Regions from separate parts of the Homo sapiens genome. Here region 2 is linked to region 1. Evidence: fine-mapped expression QTL. Tissue or cell type: whole blood. Region 1 holds a variant in brackets; the other region holds the start of a gene. All regions are shown on one strand. Distances are between the middles of the regions.

Evidence for each region. PIP is the estimated chance that this variant, and not a neighbour inherited with it, causes the effect.
Region 2: it holds the start of GOLM1, and the variant in region 1 is fine-mapped to the expression of GOLM1 in whole blood (INTERVAL, PIP 0.94).

The regions. Positions count from the first base shown.
Region 1 is chr9:86,223,268-86,231,375 of GRCh38, reverse strand. C9orf153 (chromosome 9 open reading frame 153) reads left to right here. Exons shown (of 4, transcript NM_001276366.4): 2 at 1,747-1,838; 3 at 3,346-3,521. The coding sequence starts at 1,773. Among named protein-coding and RNA genes, the nearest start is that of C9orf153, 32 kb to the left of the region's middle. The variant C/T (reference allele first, on the strand shown) is at 3,570.
Region 2 is chr9:86,095,700-86,103,807 of GRCh38, reverse strand. It overlaps GOLM1 (golgi membrane protein 1), which reads left to right and starts at 4,250. Exons shown (of 10, transcript NM_016548.4): 1 at 4,250-4,397. RefSeq lists silencers at 4,039-4,358, 4,369-4,468, 4,629-4,678 and an enhancer at 4,309-4,809.

The DNA of each region.
Region 1 (8,108 bases):
TCTCTTACCTACCAATAAGGGTTTCACTGGAATAAATTAAGCCAAGAATGTGAAGTTTTATGGGGTTTATCTGTATTTATTGCTATATAACAATTCATGCAAAGCTTAGTGGTTTGAAACAATAATAATTTACTCTTTGTCAAAATTTTAGAGTTGCCTTGCTCAGCTGGGAGGTAGTTCTTCTCCATCTGGGATTGGCTGAGGTTGCTTATGCTGCTGTAGTTATCTGGAGGCTCGTCTGGGGCTGGGTGAACCAAGATGGCTTTATCTACATGTCTAGTGGTCAATACTGGCTGCTGAGTCTGCATGGTCTCTCCAGATAGGCAGCCAGATCTCTCTTTACATGGTGGCTCAGGCTCCCAAGAATGTGTAGGAAAGCCGCAAAGCCTCTTAAGGTCTGGGTTCTGGCACTCACACTATGTCACTGACACAATGCCACAAGCTATTGATCAAAGCCAAGCATAGGCCAGCCCAGTAAAATGTGGGAGAGAACTTAACTGCCACTTATCAATGAGATGAATTGTGGAGATTCCATGGCCATTTTTAACGTCTTGCAGAAAAATTAAACACAATTCCATCTGCAAAATGCCTTATAGTGTATCTGACACAAAGTAAATTATTTTCAAAATATTTATTGTTTTTATTATTATCATTACATATGAGCCTTTTCCTCCTGAATAAAAAACACTTTTTGAGTGTAAGGAGGTGGGTGAGTTTTTCTTTAGATGAACTGAAAGTTGATCAGAATATGTAAGACAAGAAAATAAAACTATCCAGCTGGGCGTGGTGGCCCACACCTGTAATCCCAGCATTTTGGGAGGCCGAGGTGGGTGGATCACCTGAGGTCAGGAGTTCAAGACCAGCCTGACCAACACGGTGAAACCCTGTCTCTACTAAAAATACAAAATCAGCCAGGTGTGGTGGCACATGCCTGTAATCCCAGCTACTTGGGAGGCTAAGGCAGGAGAATTGCTTGAACCCGGGATGCAGAGGTTGCAGTGAGCCAAGATCGTGCCATTGCACTCCAGCATGGGCAACAAGAGTGAAACTTCATCTCAAAAAAATAAATACATAAAATAAAAAATAAAACCATCCATATAGGATTTGTTACACTAGTATTAAAACTAAATACACATGTTGTAGAAGAATTTGGGTATTTCAGTGAAATGCTCAGTTGAAGCATGACAAATTTGGCAGACCTAAACTACGAAAAAGCAAATGAAAAGTTTAAATTGTATTGATATGCTTTGGATTTGTGTCCCCACCCAAATCTCACATCAAATTGTTATCCCCAGTGTTGGAGGTGGGGCCTGGTGGGAGGTGACTGGATCATGGGGGAGGATTTCCCCTTGCTGTTCTCATGATTGTGAGTTCTCATGAGACCCGGTTGTTTAAAAGTGTATAGCACTTCCCCCTTTGCTCTTTCTTTCTCCTGTCCTGGCCATGTAAGACGTGCCCTGCTTCTCCTTTGCCTTCCCCCAATAATTGTAAGTTTCCTGAGGCCTCCCCAACCATGCTTCCTGGACTGTGTGCAGAACCATGAGCCAATTAAACCTATTTTCTTATAAATTACCCAGTTTCAGATATTTCTTTAGAGCAATTCAAGAATGGACTAATACAGGTATAAAATTTTCAAAATGTCCCACTCACAAATTTATTAAGATTTAAGAAGTCTCACCTCCCCCTTTGTATTCTATCTGATTTTTAATCTTTGATTTTTGTCTTTTCTCATATTGCTTTTTTTAGGAATTAGAGAATAAAATCCCAGCACGATGTTCCTCACTGGAGACACCAGTCCAGCTGAGGACAATAGAGAAGCCACCCTTCCTCAATGTTCAGTATGTACTTAACATTGTACAACGAGGTGTACACAGGGAGCTTTACATTCAAGAATCATAAACATTCAAACTATTGAACGCACAGTGACACACTTGGGAGCCATGGGAAACTCCAAAATGTCACTTTAATGACTTAACATTCTTAGTCACAGAGAAGTGTAGCTCTTCCCAGGGCAGGTGGGCAGAAGTGCTGAGCTGTTTTCGTGATAGTGTGGTTGTATAATTCGTTATAAAGAGCCATTCACCAATGTTAGCACACTTTCTTTTTTTTTTTTTTCTTTAGGAAAAGATGTATTAACCAGAGAACAATCCAGCCCAATTTCCAGGCTAAAGATTTCATGATATCGGTCCAAACATCACACTATTTAACTCCCCAAAAAAACACTGGAAAAAAAGACTATCAGTGCTAACACATTTACTTATAAAATCTCCACCTATGTACCAATTTCTAAAACAGTTACAAGACAGATACACAATTTGGGGTAAACTAACAAAACAGACTATTATAAAATATTAAAAGCAATCCTCCTGGTCCACGGGCCCTTGTCGCCTCTTACTTGAAGTTGGCGTAACTGAGAATGCATCCATATATTCCTGCACCACCTTGTAGCAGAGCTCATACTGGTTCCAGGGTCTGGACCACTTGTGTAGCCTCTGTAGCCGCAGACTCTTGACATTCTGGAAGACGTCCAAAGTCCCTTCTACTTTCCCACGCGTTAGCTCACTTTCTATTTGTTGCCCTTGCAATAAAATTGACTAGGATTGAAGGAAAACTCTGCATTGGGCTAAAGGACCTAAATTTCAGCCCTAACCTGAGACTATGGCCTCTTTGGCCTTCCAGTGTAATGGCCTAAGAAACCTCTTAGAAAGGATAGGATTTGTAGGAAGTATAGGATTTTAGATGGGGACAGGTCCTCTCAGGGATCTGTTACTGTTTTTTTCTGCCAATAACTATTCCCAGATACTCAATGTATGTCACCATTTGCTCTGGTCACATATCCCAGTGAGCAATGACTATTGTCGCCTCCTCAGCACTGGATTCCTGAACATTATGGGCTCTTTGGACAACAGGATGAAGCTCTGATATCTAAGTGATCTGGCTCGCTTTCTTCCTTCAAAGACATAATAGCATTGTTCAAAACAAGCAAAGGCCACAGTCTCCCACAGCTATTTCTCTCCGTGGTCACTCATAGAATTTCAGAGTTGGAAAGATCTTCAAGACTTCTTAGTTCAATTCTAACTGCCTAATTTTATAACAAGCATTTATAAGACGTGTCTAAATAATACATCTTTAAGGGAGTGAATCGGAGATTTGACCTCTCTGTTCTCTATTCCACATTGCCACAATTGACTTGCTTTAGTTAGGCAAAGATATCTTCCAAAGATAAAAATGCTTTTGTCTTTATGGTTATTTATTGTCCTATGGTTTTTTCTAGGGTTTGTAGGTCTGCCAGAATATTACATTTTTGTCAGTCTCGTGACTTACCACTTTTTTTTTTGTCCACAGCTTCCAGAATTATATGCATGTATTGAGAATTTTAATAAGGAGAGCAAGAAATCAAATCTTCTAAAAATGCATGGTATTTCACTTAACGAAGCACAGGAAGTACTTGCTAGAAACCTGAATGTCATGTCATTCACCAGGGGCGCTGATGTGAGAGGAGATCTCCAACCTGTTATCAGGTGCACAGTGGTTAAAAAAGAGAAGCAAGCATCCATGATTGAGCTCCT[C/T]TACCGCAGCTTACTGGCAAGCTCACTCTCTCCCATGGAGAGGCTCTCCAGGTCCCAGCAGAGGCTGTCACAGTGTGGGATCTCCCCTCCCAAGCACACTTTTCCTTATGAAATTCTCACCGATCACTCGAATGCCTTGGCCCAAGTTACCGTACAGAAGGTTCCAAGCCCCAAAATCTTATGCAGCTTAGGCATTTCCAGTGCCACCCCAGAAAAGTTCATTTCTGAAGATAAACTTTGTAGATCCTTCTTAGTTGACCCAGGTAATTTAAACAGATGAGGCCATGTGGGAGAAAAGGAATGGAAATCTCATTGCAAATTTACTAGAGCAGAAATGGTCCAATACTGACCTACAGCAATTTTGTAGTTCTGAGGTTCATGGCTGCTATTAATATGTTTGCTTTATACAGTGTCAATAAAATGAACAAGCCTGGAAAACATAGAAAGACCCCATCTCCAAAAATAAATAAATAAATAAATAAATAAATAAAAATTAGCTGAGCTTGGTGGCATGTGCCTGTAATCTCGGCTACCCGAGAGGTTTAGGTGGGAGGATCACTTGAGCACATGTGTTTGAGGTGGCAGTGAACTATGATCACACCACTGCATTTCAGCCTTGGCAACAGAGCAAGACCCTGTCTCTAAAAAATGAATAAGTAAAAATAAAAATAAAATGCAGAACAGAGAACCCAGAATTCCAGGATCAAGTCTCAGATTCACTCTTAAAAAGATATATTGTTGGGCCAGGCATGGTGGCTCATGCCTGTAATCCCAGCACTTTGGGAGACCGAGGCGGGCAGATCACCTGAGGTCAGGAGTTCGGGACCAGCCTGGCCAACATGGTGAAACATGGTCTCTACTAAAAATACAAAAAATTAGCTGGGCGTGGTGGTGGGTGCCTATAATCCCAGCTACTTGGGAGGCTGAGGCAGGAGAATTGCCTGAACCCAGGAGGTGGAGATTGCAGTGAGCAGAGATCGCACCATTGTGCTCAAGCCTGGGCCACGAGGACAAAACTCTGTCTCAAAAAACAAACAAACAAACAAACAAACAAAAAACCATGAAACTTATGATGCTGAATTTTAATGAGAAGGGAGTGTCTTACACTTTAAGTCTCCATCTTATATAATTTGAGAGAGGTAATATTTTGTCATTTTTTAATAGATTACATCAATTTGTGATAACCCTCTGAAGCAGTTTCTTGATTCAAGATAAGACCATTTTCACAGCAAATATTTTAACACCACCATTTTTATATTAAAAGTAGTGGGACGGGGCAATATGGCAAAACCCCGACTCTACAAAAAAATTTTAAAAATTAGCCAGGTGTGGTAGCATGCACCGGTAGTCCCAGCTACTCGGGAGGCTGAGGTGAGAGGATAACTTGAACCCAGGAGGCAGAGGTTGCAGTGAGTCAAGATTGTGCCACTGCACTCCAGCCTGGGGAACAGAGCAAAACTCTGTCTCAAAGAAGAAAAAAAAAAGTAATGGGAGAGGCAGAAGGAGCAAATTTAAAGGAATAGATTGATTACTGTGAGTATATTTGGTCCAAAGAGTTGGAAGAGCTTTTGCTGTAACTCCCTACATTGACATCTTAACAGAGCCAAATGCAGGCTTCGAAATCCTTTCATAGAGTCCTACGTTGCCTAAGTAGCAGTGCAATTAAAGCAATGATAGGACTGGCCTAGATAATTCGCAAAGTACACAAGTAAAGCCTGGGACCAGAGAGGAAAAATCATGAAAAGTGTTGAGACTCAGTAAGAAGAACTAATCAAAAACCTACTGAAGAAGGGTTTTGGATGTTTGATAAGGTCTTGAACATTTATGACTTTCACATGTATACGGGCCAAGTTTTTCTTTCTTCCTAATGCATGAATTACCTGCTGGTTACCTAACTTCTGGAGGTCTCTGATGTGGTCTCACAAACTGTGTTGGAGTCTCTTCTCTGCCTCCATATCTTCATTTCCTGAGATCCCAGAGGTAAATTTCTGGTACATGTCATGTCTATTCAAGAAATATGCTGGCTGGGCATGGTGGCTCACGCCTATAATCCCAGCACTTTGGCAGGCCAAGGCGGGTGGATCACCTGAGGTCAGGAGTTCAAGACCAGCCTGGACAACATGGTGAAACCCTGTCTGGACAACATGGTGAAACCCCGTCTCTACTAAAAATACAAAAAAATTAGCTGGGCGTTGCGGCGGGCACCTGTAATCCCAGCTACTTGGGAGGCTGAGGCAGGAGAATCGCTTGAACCCAGGAGGCAGAGGTTGTGGTGAGCCAAGATCGCGCCACTACACTCCAGCCTGGGCAACAGAGTGAGACTCCGTCTCAAAAAAGAAAGAAAGAAAGAGAGAAAGAGAGGAAGGAAGGAAGGAAGGAAGGAAGGAAGGAAGGAGAGAGAGAGAGAGAAAGAAAGAAACGAAAGAAAGAAGGAAAGAAAGAAGGAAGGAAGGAAGGAAGGAAAGAAAGAAAGGAAAGAAAGAAAGAAAAAGAAAGTGCATGGAGTCAGGCAGGAATCTAAGTGAAGGGTATCCAGTAATCCCTTAGGGGTAATTAGTATTGCAACAATTCATCTTCTACTCTCCTACTCAGTCCAGAAGAACTTTAGGATCCTGGTATTCCAAAGTATACTAAAGAACATATTCCTACTGGCACCAAGCACCGGGGGAGGAAAAGAGAGTGGGTGTTGCCGTTTTGCTCTTCTATCGTATGAGCTCCTCTTGTTCAGGCTAAATCCCATAGAATCATATAGCTTAGGAATCAAAAATAACAGAAAACCAAATAGTGGTTATTTTTCTTACATAATTAGAAGTCTAGGGGTACGCAGACAAGGGCCGGAACAATGCTTTTTTTTTTTTTTTTTTTTGAGACGGAGTCTCGCTCTGTTGCCCAGGCTGGAGTGCAGTGGCACAATCTTGGCTCACTGCTACCTCTGCCTCCCAGGTTCAAGCAATTCTCCTGCCTCAGCCTCTCCCATGTAGCTGGGACTACAGGTGCCCACCACCAAGCCCAGCTAATTTTTTTTTTTTTTTTTTGTATTTTTAGTAGAGACGGGGTTTTACCGTATTAGCCAGGATAGTCTCAATCTCCTGACCTCGTGATCCGCCTGCCTCAGCCTCCCAGTGCTTTTTATGTCTCTATTTATTTAATGAACACATTGTCATTGTACATATATATGGAGTACAATATATGTTTCAATAGTGTTATATAGTGATCGAATCTGTGTATTTATCCTGACCTCATGCACTTACCATTTCTTTGTGGTGATGACTTTGAAAAGCCTTCCTTCTAGCTATTTTGTAAGATACCATATCTTATTGTTAACTATCCTCACCTTACTGTGCAATAGAACACCAGAATTTATTCCTCTTATCTAACTGTAACTTTGTTCTCAATTATTTATTTACTTCAATTTTAATTTTTTTTTTTTGAGACACTGTCACCCAGGTTGGAGTGCAGTGGCACAATCTCAGCTCACTGCAGCCTCAACCTTCTGGGCTCAAGCAATCCTCCTATCTCAGCCTCTCAAGTAGCTGGGACCTCAGGTGCATGCCACCACAACTGGCTAATTTTTGTATTTTTTGTAGAGATGGGGTTTCATCATATTGCCCAGGCTGGTCTTGAACTTCTGAGCTCAAGTGATCTGCCTGCCTTGGCCTCCCAAAGTGCTGGGATTACAGGCGTGAGCCACTGGTCCTGGCCCATTTTACATTTTTTTGAGATGGTATCTTGCTATGTTGCCCAGGTTGGCCTCAAACTCCTGAGCTCAAGGAATCTTTCTCCTTCAGCCTCCCCAGTAGCTGGGACTACAGGTGCATGCCACTATGCAGGGCTTCTAATTATAACTCTGAACCCATTGACTTATCTCTCTCCATCCTCCCCTCCCACTCCCTACTCTGTCTCTGGTGACCGTGATTCCACTCTCTGTGGAGCGATGCTTTCAAATGTCTCCAAGGACCTGGGCTCTGCCATTTTTTTGTGTGTAGCTTTTGTTTTCATGTCCAAAAGACATCTTCACCCTCGGAGGCTGTGGCCACATTCCAGTCAGGAAAAGGTGGGATAGGATGAAGAGCCACATTGACACTTCTGTCCTCTTTTAATACGGAAGCAACGATTTTCCAGAACACCTCTCCTTAAGTGATTTCTTTCTACATCTTCTTGGCCAGAATTGTGTCCAATCATCACCCCTTCCTGTAGGGAAGGCTGGTGAATAAGAGTTCTTAGCTCCCCCCTCTATAGCAGAGGAAGGCAGAAGAGGATTGCAATGCGTGTGGAGTAAGCCAACCTAAAGTGTCTGTCAGAGATCATGACGTGAAGCTTCTTTTTTTATTATTTATTTTTGACAGAGTCTTGCTCTGTCACCCAGGCTGGAGTGCAGCAGCACGATCTCGGCTCACTGCAACCTCCGCCTCCCAGGTTCAAGTGATTCTCCTGCATCAGCCTCCGGAGTAGCTGTGATGACAGGTGCCCGCCACCAAGCCCAGCTAATTTTTTGTATTTTTGGTAGGACCAGGTTTCTCCCTGTTGGCCAGGCTGGTC
Region 2 (8,108 bases), 130 kb after region 1:
ATAGTTCTCCAAAAAATGATGATGTTGGTACCTGAGAAAGGAAATAATGGATACTGAAAGCAAACACAGCAAGATATTTACAGCAAATACTTTTTAGTCTGTTCAATTCAATTTATTTCATGCAGTTTACCCTTGAACAATCTACGGGTTAGGGACACCCCCATCTCTGCACAGTTGGAAATCTGCATTTAACTTTGATTCCCCCAAAACTTAACTACTGATAGCCTACTGTTGACTGGTAGCCTTACTGATAACATAAACAGTTAACACATATTTTGCATGTTATATGTATTATAAACTGTATTCTTACAATAAGGTAAGCTAGAGAAAAGAAGGCAGCATTTAAGAGCAATGAACTAGGATATCTAGCAGAAGAAATGTCTAAGCAGTAAAGCATTCAAGGTGTTGCATGGATTGTTTTGGCTGCTTACAGTAAAATTAGAGAAGAAATAAATGATTAAAAGATGAAATTTATAACTAAAAAGGAAGCAGAAAAAAATTTTGAAAATTTTCAGCCTGGCCAAGAGTGCAAAGGCATGTTTGGGAGAGCCTCATAAAGATGTAAGTCCTTGTAGGGATATAGTCCAGTGGACCCCTTGCTAAAGAGATTACCATGGCTAGAAAGGAGTCAGGTGCTATTCATCAAGACAAGAAAGACCCCAATGGCATTTCAGAGATTTTTTAGGTTGCCCCTTCCATCACAGGCCCAGAGCAGGACCTTGAAGGCAAGGTTTCCAGAGACGTGGCCACAGGACCTCAGCATTTGCTACCAGGCACTGCCTCAAGTATCTGCTCCCCGCTTTCCAGCACAGCACTCCACAGCTGTTGCAGCTGTGTGGCTCAAGTGGGCCCAGCTGTGGCTTAGGCTACTGTTCTAGAGGGTGTAAGTGGTGGGCCTTGGCGGCATCCATGTGGTGCTAATTCTGAAGGTACACAGAGTTCATGAGCTATGGGGCTATGGCAGCCTCCACCTAGATTCCAAAGAATGTACTGGACAGCCTGGGGATACAGGCAGAAACTTGCCGTAGGGGCAGAACTGCCACAGAGATTCCCTACCAGGGAAATGCCTAGTGGAGCCATGGAAGCAAAGCCATAGCAGGGAACCACCACTAGGACAATGACCAATGGAACTGTGGGGTTGGGGCTGTCCCAGAGCCCCCAGAACTGTAGAGCTACCAGTGTGCAACACAGCTTGGAAGAGCTTTAGACATGAGACTACAAACCATGAGGTTCTGTGACATGACTACACCCAGCCAAGTTATACAGATGGGGCAGCCCAAGACCTTGGGGGTCCAACTCCCACCCTAGTATGCTTAGAAGGTGAGATATAGTCAAGAAAGGCTATTCTGAGGCTTTGGGATTTAATGTTATTTTTTCCCTGTTGGGTTTTGGACTTACTTGGGACCAGTTACCCCTTTATCTTACATATTTCTCCCTTTGGGAATGTGAATACCTATACTGTGCCTGTGCCACCATTGTATTTTGGAAGTAAATAATTTGTTTTAATTTCACAGGCTCATTGCTGGAGGAATTTGTCTTAGGATGAATTGTGCCTTGAATCTTGCTCATATCTGATTTAGATGAGACTCTGGACTTTCTAGTTGGTGCTAGAGTGAAGACCTTAGGGCTGCCAGGTGCAGTGGCTCATGACTGTAGTCCCACCACTCTCGAAGGCTGAGGCAGGTGGATTGCTTGAGCCCAGGAGTTTGAGACCAGCCTGGGCCACATGTCAAAACCTCATCTCTACAAAAAATACCAAAAAAATTAGCTGAGCATGATGGCATACACCTGTAGTCCCAGTTACTCAGGAGGCTGAGGTGGGAGAATCACCTGAGCCCAGGAGGTTGAGGCTGTAGTGAGCCATGATCACACCACTGCACTTCTGCCGGGGGGACAGAGTGAAACCCTGTCTCAAAATAAATAAATAAATAAATAAATATTAAAGCCTTTAGGGCTGTTGGGATGGAATAAATGTATTTTGTATGTGAGAAGGATATGAACTGGGGGTGGTGGGGGGCATAGAAGCAGAATGCTATGGTTTGAATGTGTGCTCCATAAAGCACGTGTTGAAAACTGAATCTCCAGTGCAACAGTGTTGGGAGGTGGGGCCCAAAGGGAGGTGTTTAGGTCATAAAGGCTCCACTCTTATAAATAAATTAATGCCAATTATAGAGGGTTTGAGGCTGCAAGTTCAATTTCACATACACCCTCTTGCCCTTCTGCCTTCCACCACAGGCTGATGCAGCAAGAAGGCCCTTGCAAGATGCCAGCACCTTGATATTAGACTTCCTAGCCTTCAGAACTATGAGAAATACATTTCTTTTCTTTATAAATTACTGAGTCTGTGGAATTGTGTTATAGCAACACAAAATGGACTAAGACATTAAGGAAAGGATGCTTAACAGGCAAAACATGGATGCTTCCTTCAACCAACCACTGTAGCCCCTTGCACATTGTTTAATCAAAACCCATCCAATTGAATTTTCAGGGCCAGCAACTGATTAGCTTTTTTATAAGGAATGTAAATTATGTATATAGATATATATAAAACTGCATCTTAAAATTTTCAACTTTTGTCATAAAGAATCTAACGAAAAGGACTAATTCATCTTCAATTAAAATATAGCTCATTCAGCCAGCTGCCTTAGCACCTAGACATATGGACCTGTTCCATAAAGTGTTTAAGAATCACTGAGTGAGTCGCTAATTAGTTGCTGATAAATGAGAGACTAATGGAGACCCTCCTTAGAGCCAAATGATATAGAAGTTACAGTCCACCAGTCTAAGAATGTAAACTATACTAAGAGAGCTAAAATGGGCAAGAAAGGGAATTTCCTGTACCTGTCCCCGATTATGGTTATTTAAGCTCACTAGAAGATCAAAGTGACACAACTTAAGTCTGCAAAACCAGGGCTGACATCTGATACAGCCTCAGCTTCTGAATGCTTTGGTCTGACCCTACAACAGTTTAACAGTTGCAGATAACAAAAATATCATTTTGGAATATAGTAGAACATTCCTCTAAAGGGGTCATGTATGGTCAGCTTCTAATTCAGCTAAGAGGTTTTAGCTGGTAAAGATACGTTTCCTGCAGTTAAGAAGCTCCATGCTCAGGTAGCAATAGGGTATCTTGATCACCTTTTTTAAGGTGACTCTTTGTTCTGGTTAAAATCAATTTCAGCTGTGAGCATTCCTTTAGGTGTTCATGTATTTACTTGTTTTTTTATTGTGATTTGAGAGAGGCGCAGAGGAAGGAGTTTCCTTTCCCAGACACCAGAGCTAGGAAGACATGAAGACATGATTCTAGGAAAACTGTTCTCAATCTTGGCCGTATACTGTATTAGGATTATCTGGGAAGCTCAAAACAAACAAAAAATATCAAGTTCACTTTGAACTCTGGAAGTGGGACCCTGGTTCCTAAATGCTCTAAAAGCTCCCCAAATAATTCTAATGGATGGCAGGTGCTGCCAGAGTTAAGAACCATTGCTTTAGAATTTTCTAGCATGGTTTCCCTGTAGGTCACTAGTTTTGTGGCATTCTCTCCGGGAGGTACGGCCTCATAGGGCTTCTCAAACATCAGTGCGCCTGAGCGTCATCTGAGGCGCTGTTTCAAATGCAGCTGCCCGGGCTATAAGATCACACCCGAAGGCGTCCGGGAATCTTCACTTTTTCCGTTGCTAGCAGTGGAAGGGTCACAGACCAAACACTAAGGCCTGAGCGGTGACAACCGAGGCGAGATGATGGTCAACAGGGAATGCCTCGTGGGAGAAAAAAGACAATTTTGTGAGTATAAGCCCCCTAAAAACCTGTTTTTCGTTCGCTTCCTTCTCTGGGCAGTTTTGACCCGACGACTTTTATAAAGAAGGTAACGTGAGTGTGGCGCTGGGTGCGGTTGGCTGTTCGGGAACATTCCCTCGGGGCGGAACGTGGGATGGGGGCTCCCCCCAGGTACCCTTTCCCCACAGCCGCTTCCCCGCTCCGCGTCGCTGCTCAGGCGCCAGCTCCCGCGTCGGAAGGGGCGATGGGGTGGCCCGGGGGAAGGGGCAACGCCCAGCGGCGAGAACTGGGCGCACGCTGGCGTTCCTGCTCCCGCCGAGGGGCGGCCACCGGCCGGGGCGCGCGCACCGTGGGGCCGGGAGTCCGCGCGGCCCCGGCAGCCCCTGCCTCGCTTCTCCGCGCTCGCGGCGCCGCCTCCTCCCTTCGCGCCGCCGGCGCTGCTCGGGGGCGGGGCCTTGCCGCTGCGGAGGCCGGAGACGCGGCGGCGCTGGACGCGGAGGCGCTGGGCGCACGGCGCGGAGCCGGCCGGAGCTCGAGGCCGGCGGCGGCGGGAGAGCGACCCGGGCGGCCTCGTAGCGGGGCCCCGGATCCCCGAGTGGCGGCCGGAGCCTCGAAAAGAGGTGAGTGGGCGGCGCGCGGCCCCAGGCTGCCCGAACCGCGGTCCATCGCTTCCTCCCTCCTTTGCCCAGGGCCCGTACCCCGCGCGCCGAGACCTCGCGTCGGTCCCCGGAGCCTCCCCGCGGCTTGCGCCGGGGCTGCAACCTTCGCTGGCTGCGCTCGGGGCTGGCTCCGCACCTTCCTGCACCGAGTAGCCCGCGGCTGCCTGGGCCCCTCGGCTCGCTCCCCAAGACCGGGCGCGCGGCCCCCTTGCCCTGCGATGAGGGGCCTCGCGAGGATTCCCTGCCCTGCAGTCTCAGGCGATGCGGGGCCTGTCTTTTTGTTCTGAGCTTTGTCACGCGCGTCGGCATCCAAAGTCAAAAGCGTGCACCCCCTAAGTCGCACTAGTTCCAGTTCTGCAGCGTGATTTGCACCAGGCGCGGGAGGCTGGCCGAGCCGCGAGTCTCTCGGCTCCCGCCGCCTCTTCCTCCCCTCCAGCCCCAGGCGCGCTCCGGCCGCCCTGGGGTCCACGTTGCCGCTGGGCCTCGTGGCTGGTGACCCCGGAGCTTGGGCTCCGGGTCCTCCCGCCGCGCGTCCAGAGCGCGGCTGCATCCCGTTCTCGTGGATGCTCGGGGTTTTCTCGCATACCTGTGTTTCCACCTTTGCCAACGTGGAGGATCCACACAACTTTGCCCTGCTGTAAAAATCATATCCCATTTAATATTTTTAATGATTTGCTTTTAAGAAACAAAATGTGAAGAATAACAATTTTGATGAAATTTTTTAGCAAAATTTAAGAATTATTATATTTGAAATACCATGATGATGCTGGACAATTTCAGATGTCCCATAGCCAGATTTGCAAAACTAAACTTGTGTGACTTTCACGATTTTGAGGTTTTCTTTGTCTGATTTGGGGTCCCTAGGCCCTACATTATGCACATTATTGAGGAACATTTCTAGGGCTGGATTAGTGAGATACACAATAACCTGATGAAGTATTTAGCAGCGCTTGAGTGGCTTTGTTTAGCTCATGGCCATCAGGTTGGCTCAAATCTCAGTTTTAGTATTTCTGAATTTTGGAGGGCATGGGACAATCTCTTGTCAGTTTTTGTGGGTCTCCAAAGGCATCCTAGCTTCTTCCAGTTGTGTTATAAAAGATGAAGCTAAGCTCATTACTTTCTTTCTTAATAGAAACTAGTAACTTGCTAAGACTTACTGTTTTTAGGCCAGACACTCAATTCTTAAGGTGTCAGTGAACAAAAATTGAATTGTTAGGATGGTTAAAGAAAAGAGGTTAGCTTTTAAGATACATTTTGTTCTCCTATGGAGAGGTTATCCAATTTTCACATTTTTTTTTAAAGTTGGTTTTACAGGAAAACGAAAGAAATGAGAGGAAAGTAGTGCTGAGGGTGGGGCCAGGAAATTGTGGTGACTTGGATATTAAGGGCCAGGGATACCATCTGCTTTCTAATGGCTGGTTTAGGTCCAGTTATTGATGGGAAATGAAAAGATTTTGCATTTACATTCCACCCGCTGTTGTTGTTGTTGTTGAGGGCTGGGCAGAAACAACAGTTAGGACAGCTGACCATAGCAGGCCCAGGGCTACCCGGGTTTATATATATATGGCCACCTTCCCCAGGAAGGAGGGAACTGCTACCCTTATCCTGTGAAAGTGCGAGCTGGCTTTCTGCATTGGAAGTACAGAGGGCAGAACCTGGGGAAAATGCGTCTGCGTGGATCAGTAGGAAGGGTGGAGCATCACTTTAGGCAGGTGTGCTGAGAAGAAGACAGGTGTCAGTTGATGGGCACTATTGGTGGGAGGGAGCTTGAAGGCAGCGTGGTCCCTGAGGTCCAGCCGCCTTTCTCAAAGGACCTGGGGTGGCCATTGGGGGCGGGGGAGCGGTGTTCTGTGCCTTTGGCTTAAATTCTGCAGCATTATTGTTATTACTTGTTTTTTCTTGAAATAAAAAAAAAATAAGTTGCCCTATGAAAAAAGATACATTTCTTTTTCAGTGACGTAATGTGAGAAATAACATTTGTAATTGGGATTTTTTAAAAGCACTTCTGTTTTTGTAAAACAAAACAATTTTTTAAACATTTGTAAAAAAGTAGAAGGAACAGAAGGAATGGTGCTACTATGCTTTTGCTCTCACCTTAGAAAAGGGCGAATGATATTTCACTTGCTCCCCAAAAACTGTTCTTAAAGATCATGGTGGTTTTCTGGACTTCTCACGTTATTGATGAAGTTACATTAAAAGAGAGACTTGTCTCCAAATTTATGAAGTGTTTCTTAAATTTCCAGAGAGTCTTTCCTTTCTTTCACACAGATATTTCTCACACTTTCAGGAAAAAAAAAAAAAAAAGTCCATGCCTTCTCAGATTTTTACATTTTGGTCTTATTTTCCTTTAAAACCCTTAAGCACTTTATTAGTAGGACTTCCCTTGCTAAGATTTTGAAGATTAGTGCCTGACAGAAAAAAGTACATATATAAATACTATATAATATGATTATAGTTGTTTATATTGTAATTTGCTATCGTTTCCCAACTTTTTTGATGTTTCTTAGTAATAAAAAAACTTTTTTAACACTCTTCTGTATGTGCATTTGTTGCTTATTTATAAACTACATGTATTTGCTGTTATGGTTATATTGTGTCTCAAGGCCCAATATACACATAGGGCTGGATTTGTTAACAACATTAGAGGTAGAAACCCTGTTTTAAATACTCTTTCTCTTAATTTTAAGTATTTTGGGCCTGTGTCTTGTCAGATCTGATTACATCAGCATAGTTTCTACTTCATGAGGTATCTCATGCAAGGCTGACTCAGTATAGAGCTTTGCCAGCCACGGTATTTTGCTGTCCTGTGTTTGCATTTATTAGTGGAATAAACAGACCTCTGACTTGGTAGGTCTGGGGTCGGCCACAAAATTTGCATTTCTGACAAATTCCAAGGTAATGCTGATGCTGCTAATATGGGGACCACACTTTAAGGACCATTGAACTACAGCAGGAGTTGGCAACCTGTTTCTGAAAAGGACCAGATACTATTTTAGATGTTGCAGACCCTGTGGTCCCTGTCACAACTACTCAGCTCTGCTGTTATAGCCCAGTAGCCACAGATAATATGTAAATGAATGGGCATGGTTCTGTTCCAGTAAAACTTTATTTATGGATACAGAAGTTTTAGTTTCATGTAATTTTCATGTGTCATGAGATATCCTTTTATTTCCAAACCAAAAAAAAAAAAAAAACCTATCGAGCAGTTATCATGTGGTGTGTACTTTATTGCCGCTGTAATTTTTAATCCTCACAACAAAAGGTTTTACATATTTAAAGTCTCATATCACTGCATCCTAGAACATGGGGTCAGTAGTAAGCCTACTTCAATGGACTTTTACAAGGATTGAATAAGATACAGAGAGGGGGATTATACAACTCACCAAAATTCATGCAAATAGTAAGAAAGCTAGGATTAAAATTCCTTTTGGCCTGACCCACATCAGTACTCTTTTCCTAAGCCACACTGCCTCAACAGTACCGCTAAGGAAGCACTCAAAATAACAGGTAGCTAAACTGACATCTAATATCACTTCATGGCATCCAAATTCTCCAAGGAGCACTGAACCAGGAGTCACCTGCCAGGTCAGTCTCCATCCCTCTATCAGTAGGTCTGTGTGCGAGTTGGGGAACACTGCAAGTTTCAGCTGGTTCTCGGTTCTTCTTGGTTTT